2 separate regions of the Homo sapiens genome follow, and region 2 is linked to region 1. The links come from fine-mapping of genetic effects on gene expression. Tissue or cell type: whole blood. Region 1 holds a variant in brackets; the other region holds the start of a gene. All regions are shown on one strand. Distances are from middle to middle.

Evidence for each region. PIP is the estimated chance that this variant, and not a neighbour inherited with it, causes the effect.
Region 2: it holds the start of ECHDC1, and the variant in region 1 is fine-mapped to the expression of ECHDC1 in whole blood (INTERVAL, PIP above 0.99).

The regions. Positions count from the first base shown.
Region 1 is chr6:127,376,903-127,385,088 of GRCh38, forward strand. No RefSeq gene overlaps it. Among named protein-coding and RNA genes, the nearest start is that of ECHDC1, 37 kb to the left of the region's middle. The variant G/A (reference allele first, on the strand shown) is at 4,908.
Region 2 is chr6:127,339,239-127,347,424 of GRCh38, forward strand. ECHDC1 (ethylmalonyl-CoA decarboxylase 1) reads right to left here and starts at 4,371. Exons shown (of 6, transcript NM_001002030.2): 1 at 4,098-4,371. LOC105377994 (a long non-coding RNA gene) reads left to right here. Exons shown (of 4, transcript XR_001744334.2): 4 at 2,249-2,421. RefSeq lists enhancers at 3,656-4,529, 5,404-6,277.

The DNA of each region.
Region 1 (8,186 bases):
CTGGAGACCATCAATTTGTGGGTACTTCTGGCTTGCCATGTTCTCCAGCCAAGTCTGAGGGCAGCTCTCTGATGCAAATGCAGTAACTAGCTGTCAGAAAACCTGCTGGCTTGCACGGAAGGTATGGTTCTGGACAGTGTGTCAACAGTGCCTGCTACACTGGGGAATTTTTCAAACAAACCAGCCCATGTCCTCCTCTTCCCCTCACTCACTAATGACCCTGAGTCCTGATCACCATTATGTACAGCAGAACAAAGAAGAGGTGTCAGTAGACATATTTTCTTCATAAAGATGCCCCAATGATGAATAGCCTATGTTTATTGGTTATGACCGTAGAAATGAAATGGAAAAGCTTCCACTGGGCCTGAAAGAGGCCACAGTGGGACTGGGAGACTGGAGAGGAGAGAAAAATCCTTTCTAAGCATTCTTGGAGGAATATGGTCATGGGTCAATAAGAAATGAATTGAAAGATTGTTGGAATAGAGGTAAAAATGGCAGAAATTCTTCTAGTCCAATCAGCACTTTTTGTCTTGTGACATAAAGTAACATTAGGCATTCTAAGAAAAAGAAGTGAAGATTGTGAGTATGAGAATTAAGATTTATGAAGTGATTTTGTAAGTTGGTGTAAGGTTAAACAGTCTAGAGATTCAAAGGTGCTGGAATGGAGGGAAGCACTCCAATGTACAAGCATGGAATTAGGCCAAATAGGTAGAAGAAGCCACAAAGGGCCTAATATAAGAATAAGAATATAGAAGGGATAAGAGATCATCTGATGACAATGATAATGGCCATGAATGTGGGAGGAAAAAGAGCAGGTAGAAAGCACTAGACAGAGGTAAAGCCTTGAGATTTAATCTTCAAAGTGGAGCAATTCAGAGAAGACAGATGATTGAAGTGAAGTAGAGATAAAAGGTTTTGGAAATACAGAGATTGAGAAATTATGAGGTCAGGCTTTCCAATTATTAATTAATTTATTTATTTTTGAGACAGAATCTCGCTCTGTGGACCAGGCTGGAGTGCAGTAGCACGATCTCGGCTCACTGCAACCTCTGCCTCCCAGGTTCAAATGATTCTCCTGCCTCAGCTTCCTGAGTAGCTGAGATTACAGGTGCCTGCCACCATGCCCAGCTAATTTTCGTATTTTTAGTAGAGATGGGGTTTTGCCATGTTGGCCAGGCTAGTCTCGAACTCCTGACCTCAGGTGATCCACCCGCCTTGGCCTCCCAAAGTGCTGGGATTACAGGCGTGAGCCACCGTGCCTGGCCTCCAATTATTTATTTATATATATAATGGCAGATGATGGAAGAAAAAAATTTCGACTTTAGTCTAAATTAAATTATAAAAGGAGATGATGTGGAATGTTTGTAACTGGGAGATGTTGCATTAAAGACTGGGAAAGGGGCCGGGTGCAATGTCTCATGCATGTAATCCCAGCACTTTGGGTGGCCGAAGTGGGTGAATCACAAGGTCAAGAGATTGAAACCATCCTGGCCAACATGGTGAAACCCCGTTTCTACTAAAAACACAAAACTTAGGCTGGGCGCGGTGGCTTACGCCTGTAATTCCAGCACTTTGGGAGGCCGAGGGAGGAGGATCACGAGGTCAGGAGATCGAGACCATCCTGGCTAACACAGTGAAACCCCGTCTCTATTAAAACTACAAAAAAGTAGCCGGGCATGGTGGCAGGCGCCTGTAGTCCCAGCTACTCCGGAGGCTGAGGCAGGAGAATGGCGTGAACCTGGGAGGCGGAGCTTGCAGTGAGCCAAGATCGTGCCACTGCACTCTAGCCTGGGCGACAGAGCGAGACTCCATCTCAAAAAAAAAAAAAAAAAAAAAAAAAGAAAAGAAAGAAAAAATTAGCTGGGCATGGTGGTGCGCACCTGTAGGCCCAGCTACTCGGGAGACTGAGGCAGGAGATCACTTGAATCCTAAATTGCGCCACTGCACTCCAGCCTGGCAACAGAGCGAGACTTCGTCTAAAAAAAAAGATTTGGAAAGGATGCCATATTTTTCAGAGTTATGTGTCGGGTCAAAAGTATTTTGATATTCAATAGAGATATCAGTCTTTTTTTTTTTTTTTTTTTTTTTTTTTTTTTGAGGTGGAGATTCACTCTGTCACCCAGGCTGGAGTGCAGTGGTGCGATCTTGGCTCACGGCAACCTCCGCCTTCTGGGTTCAAGCGATTCTCCTGCCTCACCCTCCCGAGTAGCTGGGACTACAGGCACGTGCCAACATGCCTGGCTAAGTTTTGTATTTTTAGTAGAGATGAGGTTTCACCATATTGTCAGGCTGGTCTTGAACTCCTAACCTCATGATCCGCCCGCCTCGCTCTCTCAAAGTGCTGGGATTACAGGTGTGAGCCACCCCACCTGGCCTTTTTTTAAAATTTTTTTTATTTTTTTGAGACGGAGTCTCCAGTTGGAGTGCAGTGTCATGATCTCGGCTCACTGCAACCTCCGCCTCCTGGGTTCAAGCAATTCTCCTGCCTCATTCTTCTGAGTAGATGGGACTACAGGTGTGTGCCACTACACCCAGGTAATTTTTATATTTTTAGTAGAGACGGGGTTTCACCATATTGGCCAGGATGGTCTTGATCTCTTGACCTCGTGATCTGCCCACCTCCACTTCCCAAAGTGCTGGGATTACAGGCGTGAGCCACCGCACCTGGCCCATCCGTTTTATTTAGTGTTATTCACAGCTTTAGTCTTTCTGACTCACAGAGAAGAACTTAACTAAGTAAGTCCTTTTGTTTCAACCATTATTCTAAAATTTGCTTATCTGAATGATAACTATTAAAATCTTATAGTAAGCTCCTATTCATAAAGTTAAACTGGCACTTGATGAATTCATCGGAGTTGACTGCACAACTCATTCTATTTCCATGAATTATTTGTTCCACTATGGAAACAGTAGTTTTAATATCCAGTCTAAGGAGATGTGTTAGGAAGGAAGTAATCTTTTATAATTGTAGCTCTCAGCAACTTAATTATTCAGAATTACCAGTTAAACAATCAATTAATGTGCCGGGTGCAGTGGCTCACGCTTGTAATTCCAGCACTTTGGGAGGCCAAGGCGGGCGGATCACGAGGTCAGGAGATCGAAAAAAAAAAAAAAAAAATTATCCGGGCATGGTAGCGGGTGCCTGTAGTCCCAGTTACTCTGGCGGCTGAGGCAGGAGAATGGTATGAACCCAGGAGGCGGAGCTTGCAGTGAGCCGAGGTCGCGCCACTGTACTCCAGCCTGGGGGACAGAGCAAGGATTAATGAAGTATAGCCTGCATTTTAACAACTATTTTAGGAAGTTCTGCATCTTAGAAAACCATATTCTAGGCAGACTGAGAAATATAATAAAAGTATTTATTGAGCACCTACTATGTATCCAAGTAGTTAACACGTATTAACTCTAATTGGTGGCAGTACAAAGTGGGCATTTGGTTTTCTGTGCAAATGTGACTTGAAGCCTTACCCCCCAACCCCAGCCAACTTGACATCCCTATGTCTGTGCTATATGGAAATCCCCCACTCCACACCCCACCCCACCCCCTCCCCCACACCCAACCCCTCCCCCCATCCGCCCACCCCTCCCACCCACTACCTCCCTACCCCCTCACTACCCCACCTCACCTCCCCCCCGTCAAAACGGACCTATCAGCTCTCTGTAAAACAGACCAATCGGCTCTCTGTAAAATGGACCAATCAGCAGGATGTGGGTGGGACCAGATAAGAGAATAAAAGCAGGCTGCGCGAGTCAGCAGTGGGAACTGGCTAGGGTCCCCTTCTACGCTGTGGAAGGTTTGTTCTTTCGCTCTTTGCAATAAAGCTTGCTGCTTCTCACTCTTTGGGTCCACACTACCTTTATGAGCTGTAACACTCACGACGAAGGTCTGCAGCTTCACTCCTGAAGTCAGCGAGACCACGAACCCACCGGGAGGAACGAACAACTCCAGACGTGCGGCCTTAAGAGCTGTAACACTCACAGTGAAGGTCTGCAGCTTCACTCCTGAAGCCAGCGAGACCACGAACCCACCAGAAGGAAGAAACTCTGAACACATCTGAACATCAGAAGGAAAAAATTCTGGACACGCCGTATTTAAGAATTGTAACACTCACCGAGAGGGTCCGTGGCTTCATTCTTGAAGTCAGTGAGACCAAGAACCCACCACTTCTGGACACATAGCTACAGTGGTTCAATTTATACCATGAAGGATGAGGTCATTGAAAGGCTATAAAAAACAAACTATTTAATGCTATATTTTGTTAAGTTGCCTTTTTTTAAAAAGCATCTACTACATATTTATCATGGTATCACTCAACCAGATAGACATGAACAAATTTAGATTAAAGACAGATTCAAAGTAATGTAACTACTGGCTTTGCTTTAACTTCCAAAGCAACCCTTTTTACCTTTAAGCCTTTCACAGGATGATTATGAAAATCAATGGAAAAATGTATGTAAAAGCTCCTTGTGAGCCGGAAGCTTCTTTCCAGGTGCTATGAATACTCAATCACTGAGAGGTAAGAGGAGTCATGACCATACACACTGTCCATCAGAAGTGGCGCCTCTTCTCCTTCAGGATTCAGTGTGGTTTAAACTATTTAACCTCTGTCTACCTCAATCTAATGACTGCAGCGTATCTCTGGATTGCCTGGGCATTGAATTACTTCTAGAAAGAGGAAGAAAGATGTGTGACACGTTTGTGGTTGGGTAGTGGTAGTGGTGTACACAGTGTGGAAAAGGGAGAAGAGCAATAAGGCTTTATTTTTGCCTGGACAACATGGTGAAACCTCATCTCTATTAAAAATACAAAAATTAGCTGGGTGTGGTGGTGTGTGCCTGTAATCCCAGCTACTTGGGAGGCTGAAGCAGGAGAATCACTTGAACCTGGGAGGTGGAGATTTCAGTGAGCC[G/A]AGATCACACCACTGCACTTCAGCCTGAGCAACAGAGCGAGATTCCATCTCAAAAAAAAAAAAAGTAAAATGCAACAATCCCTAGACAACAGTACTAGGGAGGCTGAGGCAGGAGAATCGCTTGAACCTGGGAGGCGGAGGTTGCAGTGAGCCGAGATCACGCCATTGTGCTCCAGCCTGGGCGACAAAAGCGAAACTCTGTCTCAAAAATAAATAAATAAATAAATAAATAAATACCTTATTTTTAAATGATAGCATATATTCCTCCCCTGACCCACTAGGTAGCAGGATGTCCCCTCCTCTAAACTCATGTAGCATTTTTTCCATCCTTCTTTTCAGGTGCATACAGTATTCTAATGGCTATTTCTCCTATTAAATCTGGGAATGTTGAGAGCCCAATAAATATTTGTCACATAAATGAAAAGGCTGTTCCAAAATTCAACAGTTTCGGGACTAACCAACTGACACCCAGAGCCAAAGTGAATAGTGGGATATAATGGCCATTTAATAATTTCAAAAGCTCTCATTAAACATTTTGTCATTGTTGTTGCTTTTTCAGGCACCTTGTTAGATACAAAGCAACCAACAGGATTTACAATGTACAGTCCTTGCTTTTAAGGAATTACGAATTTAGTAAGGCAAGTAGATTTATAATAACACAATTATACCAAGGTAGGAAACCATGGAAGACTTAAAATTAGGGGAATCATGTGAACTGAGTCTTGAAAGATTAGCAGTATTTTTCTAGGCAAAAGAGTGAAGGGAAAGGCATTTCATATAGGGAACAGCCTGTGCAAATATACGGAAGTATGCAACAGCATGGTTCATTCAGAGAACTGAAAGTATAGCTGACTAGTTGAAGTAAGGGGAAACACACAAACACCTCAAATGCCTACTAAGCTGCCTGCCTGTCTCCATTTTTCTTGACTATAATTATTGGGGATTTTCGAGTGTGGTGGATTAAATTATTGACTGCATTCTTTCCCTCTCCCTGTATCTGCTGCTTTGCCCTTTGCCACTCTAAAACAAAGTGTCTATCCCAGCAGCTTTACTTTGGTCAATGGGATGTGAGTAGATTTAAGGCATATCATACACTTGAAATGTATTTGAGGAGGAGGGCTTGCCCTCTTGTACCTCTGCTCTTCTTATGCAGAAAGCTTCCCTTGGTAGCTGCTGTTTCTTTTGCTGAGACCCCAGAGTGAACACAATGGAGGCCAGGCATTATGGCTTTTGCCTGTAATCCCAGCACTTTGGAAGGCCGAGGCGGGCGGATCACTTGAGGTCAGGAGTGAGACCAGCCTGGCCAACATGGTGAAACCGTCTCTACTAAACAAATATTAGCTGGCGTGGTGACGCTTTGCAGGGAGGCTGAGGCAGGAGACTCACTCGAACCCGGAAAGGTGAGGAGCAGTGAGCGAAGATGGCGCCACTGCACTCCAGCCTGGGTGACAGAGCGAGACTCTGTCTCAAAAAAAAAAAAAAAAAAAAATTAAATCTAACCAAAGACCCAGAAAAGAGAATTGAGGGACTAGAGGAGCTAGTGATGGAAAATATTATGGAACTATTTAAAAACAAATCCACAGATCCAAGAAGGAAAATACATTAAAAATATATTACAAATAAATCCATACATAGACAAAGAATTGTGAAACTATTTGATATTAAAGTCAAAACACAAACTCTTAAAATTAGTTGAAAAGGAAGGACAGAAACCTATATATGATCACAAAAGCTTAAATTAGACTAACATAAAACACTGAGGTGGTGTATTAGTCTATTATTGCATTGCTATAGAGGCATACCTGGGACTGGGTAATTTATAAAGAAAAGAAGTTGAATTGGCTCACACTTCAGCAGGCTGTAGGAGGACGGCACCAACATCTACTTGGCTTCTGGTGAGGGCCTCAGGAAGTTTACAATCATGGTGGAAGGCAAAGGAGGAAGCTGGCATGTTACTTGGTGAGAGAGGTAGCAAGAGGGCAGGAGGAGGTCCAATACTCTTAAATAACCAGATCTCTTGTGAACTAACTGAACAAGAGCTTACTTATCACCAAGGAGATGGAGCTAAGCCATTCATGAGGAATCCACCCCCATGATCCAGTTACCAGGCCCTGTCTCTATCATTGGGGATTATGTTTCAACATGAGATTTGGAGGGGACAAACGGCCAAACTCTATCAAGTGTTTTCAAAGTCAATACACAGGAGGCCTCAAACTCTCAGATGCCATTTCCAGAATCCCTTTGCCTCACCAGTATATATTTGGTTTTAGAGTCTTGAGAGCTGAATAAGGGCCAAGTTTGAACTGGAAAGCAACTGTACATACCTTCTGCTTTTTCAGCACAACAGCAGTACATAAATTGATGGTTTTTTACAGTGACCAGTCTCAAGGGAACAGATACATCATGCTAAAAGCATCCCTAGCTCTGTAATCAGTACATGGAAACCCCTGCATGACCCTTCTGTATTTCTTAGCCAGTAAATTTCACCAGTCAGTGATTTCAAGGAGGGTCAAGCTTGCCTTTGTTATCCCTATGGAGAGAAGAATGGTTTACAGACTCGTTCTTTCCACTCCAAACTACAGAGCAATATCAACAACAATAGAACTATAGCAGACTTCTCAACAATGAAAGCTAGAAAATGGTGGAATAATATCTTCAAATTATTGAGAGAAAATAACCCTCATCTTAGAATCACATGCTCAGCAAAACCTTTTAAGGATGAGAGAAAAAAATATTTACGAATAAAAAAGTTTGCTTCCAATAGTGCAGCATAAAGCAGCATTTAAAGACATCCTTTAGAAGAAGTAAAATGATCTCAGGTAGTCTGAGATAGGAAAAGACTGCTGAACAAATAAAACAGATTTTATTATGTTATGTAAAAATTATGGAAATCAATGTTACCTTTTCAAAAGGCAAAGAAAAGAAGAAAGTATACAGAAAGTTACCATCCAGTAACCTTTGAAGAGAGGCACTAAAGAAAATCTACTTTAGTGTGTCTCTCTTCAAAAAAAATTATATGAAAATGTTCGGAAACACTTGATTCCAGGAAAGGAAAGCCTCAATTTCAGGGATGGGGAATAGGCATTTTAAAGGAGCTTCAACAAGCTTAGTTAGATTGGAACATGGATTGCAGAGCATAGCAGAAATGGGTCCAGAGAGACATGAAGGGGACTTATGAGCTGTGCTGAGCAGTGTGGATTTCATGTTTTTATTATCTATCTATCGATCTATCTATCTATCTATCTATCTATCTATCTATCTATCTATCTATCTATTTAT
Region 2 (8,186 bases), 38 kb before region 1:
TCTTAAAAAATCATGCACAACCAGAAAACATAACAGAAAGGTACATACGAGATAAGCTGTAGCATTTTAGGGGTGATCAGGACAGGGACTGCATCTTACAGCTCTTAACGCAGAATTTTACATTAAATTTTTGTGGAACTAAATGACACATAATGTGGTTATTACTATATAGGTATTATGGTACCTAGTCATCATTTTCTAAACTAAAGATAATATCTATATTTACAAAATAAGAAAAAAAGAACTATTTCAGGCCAGGTACGGTGGCTTATGCCTGTAATCCCAGCACTCTAGGAGACCAAAGTGGGCAGATCGCCTGAGGTCAGGAGTTTGAGACCAGCCTGGCCAACATGGCGAAACCCCATCTCTACTAAAAATACAAAAATCAGCCAGGTGTAGTGGCACACACCTCTAATCCTAGTTACTCAGGAGGCTGAGGCAGGAGAATAACTTGAACCCAGGAAACGGAAATTGCAGTGAGCCAAGATCACACCACTGCACTCCAGCCATGGTGACAGAGCGAGAGACTCTGTCTCAAAAAAAAAAAAAAAGAAAGAAAGAAAAAGAAAAAAGAACTATTTCACTGTTGGGGTTTTTAAAAAATGCAAACCCAGGGGGTGTGGCTACAAGTGAGGGTATCATAGTCAGCCAAATAAATAAATAATCTTTCACTGGCCTCTGGTCAGCTTGCCAAAGAGCCACACCTTCTCCATCACTCCTAGCTGAGGAATCTCTGCTCCTCTTCAGAAAGGGAAGGCAAGAGCTCCTTGTCTGGTTTTATTCATATTTACAAAATGGGTTTATATGCAACATAATCTCTATTGGATCACTAATAAAAATATTGACACTTTTTAAGAAATGAGGTTAATAGACAATACAAAGTCATTCTACATATCTACATATAATACATATCGTATAAGGGTCTAGTTAGTAGTATTCTTCCTACTTTAACTATTTGAACAGATTTTCTCACAAGACTGTTAGGTGTGAGTTAAGGATAACCTGATGCATTTTCTATAACTTTCTCAGAATGAGAGGCAATTTACCCAGTAGGTATTGAGATAAGACTTGACTCACTGTGTCCTTCCCTTCTTCATTCTATTTACTGAGGATGAAGGGAACTTGCTTTCTCCCTCTCTCCCTTTCTCCCTCCTCTCTCCTCTCTGCAACCTAGGGCTGCCTTCAATTTGGGAAGTGTCCCATTCTAAGAAGGCCAAATAGCCTAGAGCTCAGGGTTCCTTAGGAATGCTTCTAGTCTAGGGAAAATAAGCTGTCAAGGTCATGTACCAGTTCAGCTAATAAACCTGGGAGGCCTACATATTCAGAGCCAAACATAGCATGCCTAGGGTCTTGCTTTTGCCTAGAATATGCCGTTAATCAGGTATGAAGATACAACCCAATGAAGCAGATACATGTGGGGCAGAGGCCCCAATTTCCACCTTGATAACTTTAGAATAAAAGTGCTAAAGAAACTTGGTAAGGACTTAGATAGTTGCTTTAAAAGTTTTTTTTTTTTTTGCCTGTCTGCCATAATCCTCTGTTTAGAGGAAGAAACAAGGAGTTAATCTAGAAAATAAGGAGGAGGGACTTATAAAAGCATTAGCATTTTGTGGGAAAGTAGAATCAGTAAACAACATATCTTCTGCTCTCATTGTAAAGGGTCTGTCTGCTCTGTCTTGATACATTACCCCTCTCTCCAACATCAACACTACAGCAATTAGTATGAACGCCATCAGATCTATATCCTTTTATCCTCAAATCTTTAAAACATTAAATATTTAAGTAATAGTAGTATTTTGCCTCATTAGACATCTTTGATCCATCACTGAAATGCCAATTTTTCCAAGAAAATCTTGTAATACTTCATGTATCCTTTCTCTATTAATTCCATATTTTCTATCTTCTCTCATTCTATTCCCTCCCACTACTGTCTCTCCTTTTCTCTCCTCCTCTTATATTCCTTGTCTGTGCCAGAAAAACCTGAGAACACTGCTTAAGCCTGCTAGATTCACTGACCCCAAGTTTAGAAATCCAATTCTAAAAATTTTATAATAGCCTATTATGTACACTTTCGTCCCAGTTCTAAATTCAGAGACTATCTTAGACAAAAGCTCAGTGATGAGATGACAAGGTGTTAGTCATTATTAACCTACTATAGTATCTAATAGTATAAAGTGAACAAAGCTTAAGATTCAGGTTCTGTAGAAGTATGTAGTTAAACGATTGGTTTTTTTTGGATTTCTTCCAGAATCACAGGAAGATGAAAAGGTTCTGAAGCATTTACAATTTTATAAGCTTTCTTCGGGGTAAAACTTATGTTTAAAACTTGCCATGCAGGATGTCTTGCAGCCCCACCACAAAGAAGATTCAGTGGAGCTGAACAAGCTCACTACCAAGCCACTGAAAAGAGGAAAGAAAGTCCATCTGAGATCAAAGGTCGCACTTCCCATTTTTTTCAAGTTCTGCAAAGGTGATCTGTTTCCCTTTAGTGCACAGGAAATAAGTGAGATGTTCTCTAAAAGCCTTTACCTGTTTCACCTTATACTGTAATCACTAAATCCAGAAGACTAACGCAAACTCATACTTAAAAAGAAAACAATTAGCCTAGAGCACGTAATAGAAATCAGAAGCATTTGATTTCAGACTGTCTGTATATCGCCTGTTTGTAAAAGTTCTGATTCGGTTGTAGGCTGTCATAACATAAACTACCTTTCAAGGTTCATTACATGCCACCCACAACTCTCTCCCTCACACAGCCAAAATGCACAACTTTCAGTTCCTGAAATCCTTTTGATTTTTTCGCCATCTCAAGCTTTCGCATATGCGATCTACCTGTTACATTTTTGTCTTCCTCAGAGTAACTTCAAATCATCTCCTCTAACATAGGACTACATAAAGTCCCCTTATTGTCTGCTCTCAGAACATCTGTATCTCTCATCACCACTCTCACTCACTCTTTGCTGTAATTAGTTTTTTAACCAGTTCTTCCCATTAGTCTTAGCTGCAAGAGGGCATTTGCAGTGCCTAAAGATAATATTCTTAAGACTAAACAGGGGCTTAAGAATCTGGCCACAAATCAACTCTCCAACTACCCTGTTTATAATCCTCACAACTCACCCTGTTTCAATGCCATGCTTCTTCACAGGCTGGCTTCCCTTCCTGGAATGTTAATCATTGCAGGAATCCCAGCTGATTATACAGTCGCCTTTCAGGCCAGAACCCAATAAAAAATCAAGAAAGGATCGCCCGTTCTATTACTGCGCTGCTCCCTCCCCTCGTAGATTTCACAAATATACTTCTCACCACAAGCTTGTCTGTTCCAAGAGAATGCTAGCTCTTCTAAAGAAGGAGCCCTTTGTTTTCCTTGCCCTTGTCCAGTTCCTCTGCATACCTCTAGCACCTAGAGCAACAACTGCTATACAGGAGCCCAGATGTGGAACAGAGCAAAGAACTGAGTGTTGATTTAATGTTGCCTGAAGTCCTTAACAGCACCTTCAACCTAAACTTAACTGTGTTTTTAATCCCCTACACGTGTAATCCCTGTATGTGTGCGCAGCGTTAAAAGGATTATTGTAGCTCAAAAATTCTCCAATGAAAGAACCTCTACCAGAAAGGAGTTGCTCATCTTTCGTTCTTGAAAAGTTGGCTGCACGATACAAGTAAGAAAAGTTTTAGTTAGGCAAGACAACTTATACATAAAAGACAATTATAGGGAACATTACCTAACTTAGCACAGGGCCTCGAATGTATTCCGAAATTAAATCAGCATGTAGAAAGCAAGCCTCCTCATGCTTTTTAAAGTGTAATCTCGCGACCTCGCGGCGCGCTCTGGGAAGACCGATTCATCTCTTCCCCTCGCCCTCTTTCCCCGGCCGGCGCACAGCCGGCCCGTGGCGCTCGGCACCGCGTCTCCACGTCCAGCGCGGGGCAGGCCTGCGCGGCGCTTGCAAGGGACAAGCCGCGGAGCCGGGGAGGCTCGCCGTCTGGGACACGTTTGGAGAAGCGAGCGGTACAGTCCATTCCACGGCGACATTTTAGGATTCTCCCACTGACAACACTAAACTGAAGCGCTAAGACCAACCCTTACGACCACTTACCGTCGCAGGCCACGGTGGTGACTTCCTTTTCCGCTCCCCTACACACGCTTTTCCGTTTTGCGTGCCTTTGTTTCCGCTCCCCCCGGGACCATCGTGCGCCCCTGTCCTCCGTTCTTGTAGGTCCTCTCCTCTTCTCCGCGTCTTCTCTTTTACTATCCCACGCTCTCCTTTCCTTTCTCCGGGAACTTTATCCCGTTCCCCTGCCGGTTCCCGTGACCCCGGAAATCCCGCTCCTGCCGCGAGGCGCCCTCCGCTTCGCGCTCCCTCGTGTCACGAGGGAGCCAGGGTGGGCGGTCTCCTATTGTACTTGGCTTTTGAATTTTCGCTTTTGCAGCACAAAGGTAGGGCTGGGAAAGGAGGCTGCCGAACCGTGCTTGTTTTCGCTCAGATAAACGTGAGAAAAAGTGGAGGTGAGGAAGCCAGTGTAGGCAAATAGCGAGAGGGGAGAAGACAGAAAGGTACCGAAGGTCGACCTTTTTTAGGTATCTTATCCAAGTTATTGAGGGGAATGGGTATTTAGCCAGTTTTTTGTTTGTTTGTTTTTATCCGAATATCCAGTGTGTGTCTTGAATGTGTGAATGTGACGTGTTTATAAAGCTCAGTAAGCTTAAAATTCCGTGCCAATACATTTTGTATGCCGCAGACAGGAAGTGCTTTGGAAGACCCTTGAAAGGGGAGGTGATTTTACACCAATATTGAGATCATTTTGTCAGAGTCGTGGGACTAAAGGTAGACCTTAGGTAGTCGATGTCAAAGATAAGCGCAGCTGGACGTTAAAGCGGTGAAAACATTCAGTTAACTACTGACAGGAAAGAGCTGAGCTCTATTTCGATTCGTGCAGAGATCATCTGGGCATTTTTAAAGGGACGTTTTAAAAGGAGAAAGGGGATATGCGGGCGCTCAGTAGAGAAAGTGAACCTACAGAGTTGTTAGTGTAAATGTGATTAGGCCAGCTGTGTGTTTGTGTGTGCGCGCGTTTTAACAGTTACCGCAGGATTCTATCCTCCTACGGAGGATTTTATCCTTCTCGATTACATTTCAAAGGAATGACTCTCTGGTCCTTGAGAGAGAACTTCTGAGTGGCAAGAAATAAGTCTTTACAATTGCAAGCCCTTTAGTAAACGTTCTAAGAAAGGGATGTCAGAGACCTATCATCAGTTGTGTGCTGGTTACATCACGTAGTTAAGCTTTCTGAGGCAGTCGCCCTGGGCACAGGGCCTTATGCTGCTAAAGCTTGCTAGAGTTTGGTCAAGTCTCTGAACGCAGGGGTTTAGATGGGATGGTCATGTTCCTGGAGTTCTGCAGTGGTCATAGGTATGATTTGAATAAGTACAGGGAATATTCTAGTCGGAGGAACAGAATGTGCCAACGCGCCGAACAGGGAGGATAGTTTTACGATACGGAGATGTGTATGATAGGGAATAAGTGGGAGCCCAGTTTGGACTAATTGGAAGAAGTCATTATTAGAAGTACTGTATTTAATTCTAGTTTGTTATAAAATGAGACTCCAAGATCACTGAGCCATTTCACTGAGACTCCAAGATCACCCCAATGCTAGGCTAATCTCCATGGCGCCTAGATCTATGCCCACTCCATTCCCCATGTTGGTCCCCATAGTTTCAGGCACCAGGCTCCAACACCAGGTTGGGCCCTACAGCCCCAGTCTCCAGGTTGGCACCAGTGGATATAGGCTTTAGGTCCACTGACTGCTGGTCCCTACAGCCCCAGGTTCCAGTGAACCCAGGTTCCAGGCCTGCTCCAACAAACCCAAGGTCCAGGTCTACCCCAGTAGACCCTGGCACCAGAACTACCCCAGAGGGCCTAGCCTACAGGCTACCACCCACAAACCCAGCCTCCATGATGGCCTCTGAAGAATCAGGCTTTAGGTCTTCCCCAGCACCAGACTAGACTGCTAGACTGATGTTCCACTTTTGTCCCCATGGACCCAGGCACCAGGCCCATCTGAGAGGTTTCTTCAGTTTTATTTTTCAGTAATAACTTTCATTCTTCTTTCTCAGTGATAACTGTAGTACTCAGTGGGCTTTCTATTTCTGGCTCCCATTTTCCATCTTTCTTTTTAACACTTTGGGAAAATATCCAAGTTAAACTCTATATAGTGGGGTAGGTGGACAATGAAAGATAAGTAAATACATAATATGTATAATCAACGGAGTGAAAAGACAGCCTGCAGAATGGGAGAAAATATTTGCAAACTATATATCTGACAAAGGGTTAATATCCAGAGTATATGAAGAAGTCAACTCAATAGCCAAAAAAAAAAAAAAAAAAATCCAATTTAAAAATGAGCAAAAGGCCTGAATGGACATTTCTCAAAAGAAAACATGATGATGACTAACAAATATATGAAAAAATGCTCAGCCAGGCACAGTGACTCACACCTGTAATCCCACACCTTGGGAGGCCAAGCAGGTGGATTGCTTGAGCCCAGAAGTTCAAGACCAGCCATGGGCAACATGGCAGAACCCTGTCTCTACAAAAAATCACAATTGGCTGGGCAATGTGGCATACACCTATAGTCCTAGCTACTCAGGAGCCTGAGGTGGGAGGATCACTGGAGCCCAGGAGCTTGAGGCTGCAGTGAGCCATGATCACACCACTGCATTCCAGCCAGGGTGACAGAGCAAGACTCTCAAAAACAAATACATACATTTTTAAAAAATTAAAAATAAATAAAAATAATCATAGGGGAAATGCAAATCAAAACCACAATGAGATATCACCTCATACCTGTTAGAATGGCTATTATCAAAAAGACAAAAAATAACATGCCCATGCATATGTGGAGAGAAATACTTATACACTGTTGGTAAGAATGTAAATTACTGGCCAGATGCAGTGGCTCACGCCTGTAATCCCAGCACTTTGGGAGGCTGAGGTGGGCGGATCCCGAGGTCAGGAGGTCAAGACCATCCTGGCCCACATGCTGAAACCCCTTATCTACTAAAAATACAAAAAAATTAGCCAGGCATGGCAGCACATGCCTGTAGTCCCAGCTAAACCTGGGAGGCAGAGGCTGCAGTGAGCCGAGATCACACCACTGCACTCCAGCCTGGGTGACACAGCGAGACTCCGTCTCAAAAAAATAATAAATAAACAAAAGAATTTGAATTACTCTAGCCATTATAGAAAACAGTATAGAGGTTCCTCAAAAAATTAAAAACAAAACTGCCATATGATCCCACAATCCCACGCCTGGGTATATATCTGAAGGAAGTAAAATCAGTATGTTGCAGAGATATCTGCACTCTCATGTTTATTGCAGCACTGTTCATAAGAGCCGAGATATGGAATCAACCTAAGTGTCCATCAGTGGATGAGCGGATAAAGAAAATGTGGTATATACATACAATGGAATACTATTCAGCCATTAAAAGGAATGAAATCCTGTCATTTGTGGCAACATAGATGGACCTGGAGAACATTAAGTGAAATAAGCCAGGCACAGAAAGACAAATATCACATGATCTCATGCAGGTGTAGAATCCAAAGAAGTTGATCTCATAGAAGTGGGAAATAAAATGGTGGTTATCAGAGGCTGAGAAGAGATTAATCAGTGGGTACAAAGTTACAGTTAGGAGGAATAAATTCTGGCGGTCTATTGCACAGTAGGATGACTGTGGTTAACAACATTGTTTCAAAATGGCTAGAAAAGATTTTGGTTGTTCTCACTACAAAGAAATGGTAAATACATGAGGTGATGGTTTTGCTAAATAACATTAAAATATCACCATATCCCATAAATAAGTAAAATTGTTATGTGTCAAAAATGAAACAAAAATATATAATGTTGGGGGGTATTAAGTGCTATGATGACAAGTAAAGCAAGTTTGGCATAATTTTGGGAGTTGGCATATTAGGTTAAGGTAAAGCCAGTTACTTTTGTTATGTTTATGAATTCCTAGGCCTCTTGACAAACACTGAGGTTCTCAAACATTGGCAAACACAAGTCACATTAGGTAAACATACAAATTCTTGGCCTTAGTTCCATATATTTTATTCTGAACAAATAGCCCTTAAGTCAAAATTGAGAAACAATGATTAGTAATAAGTTTTTACACTTCAAGTATT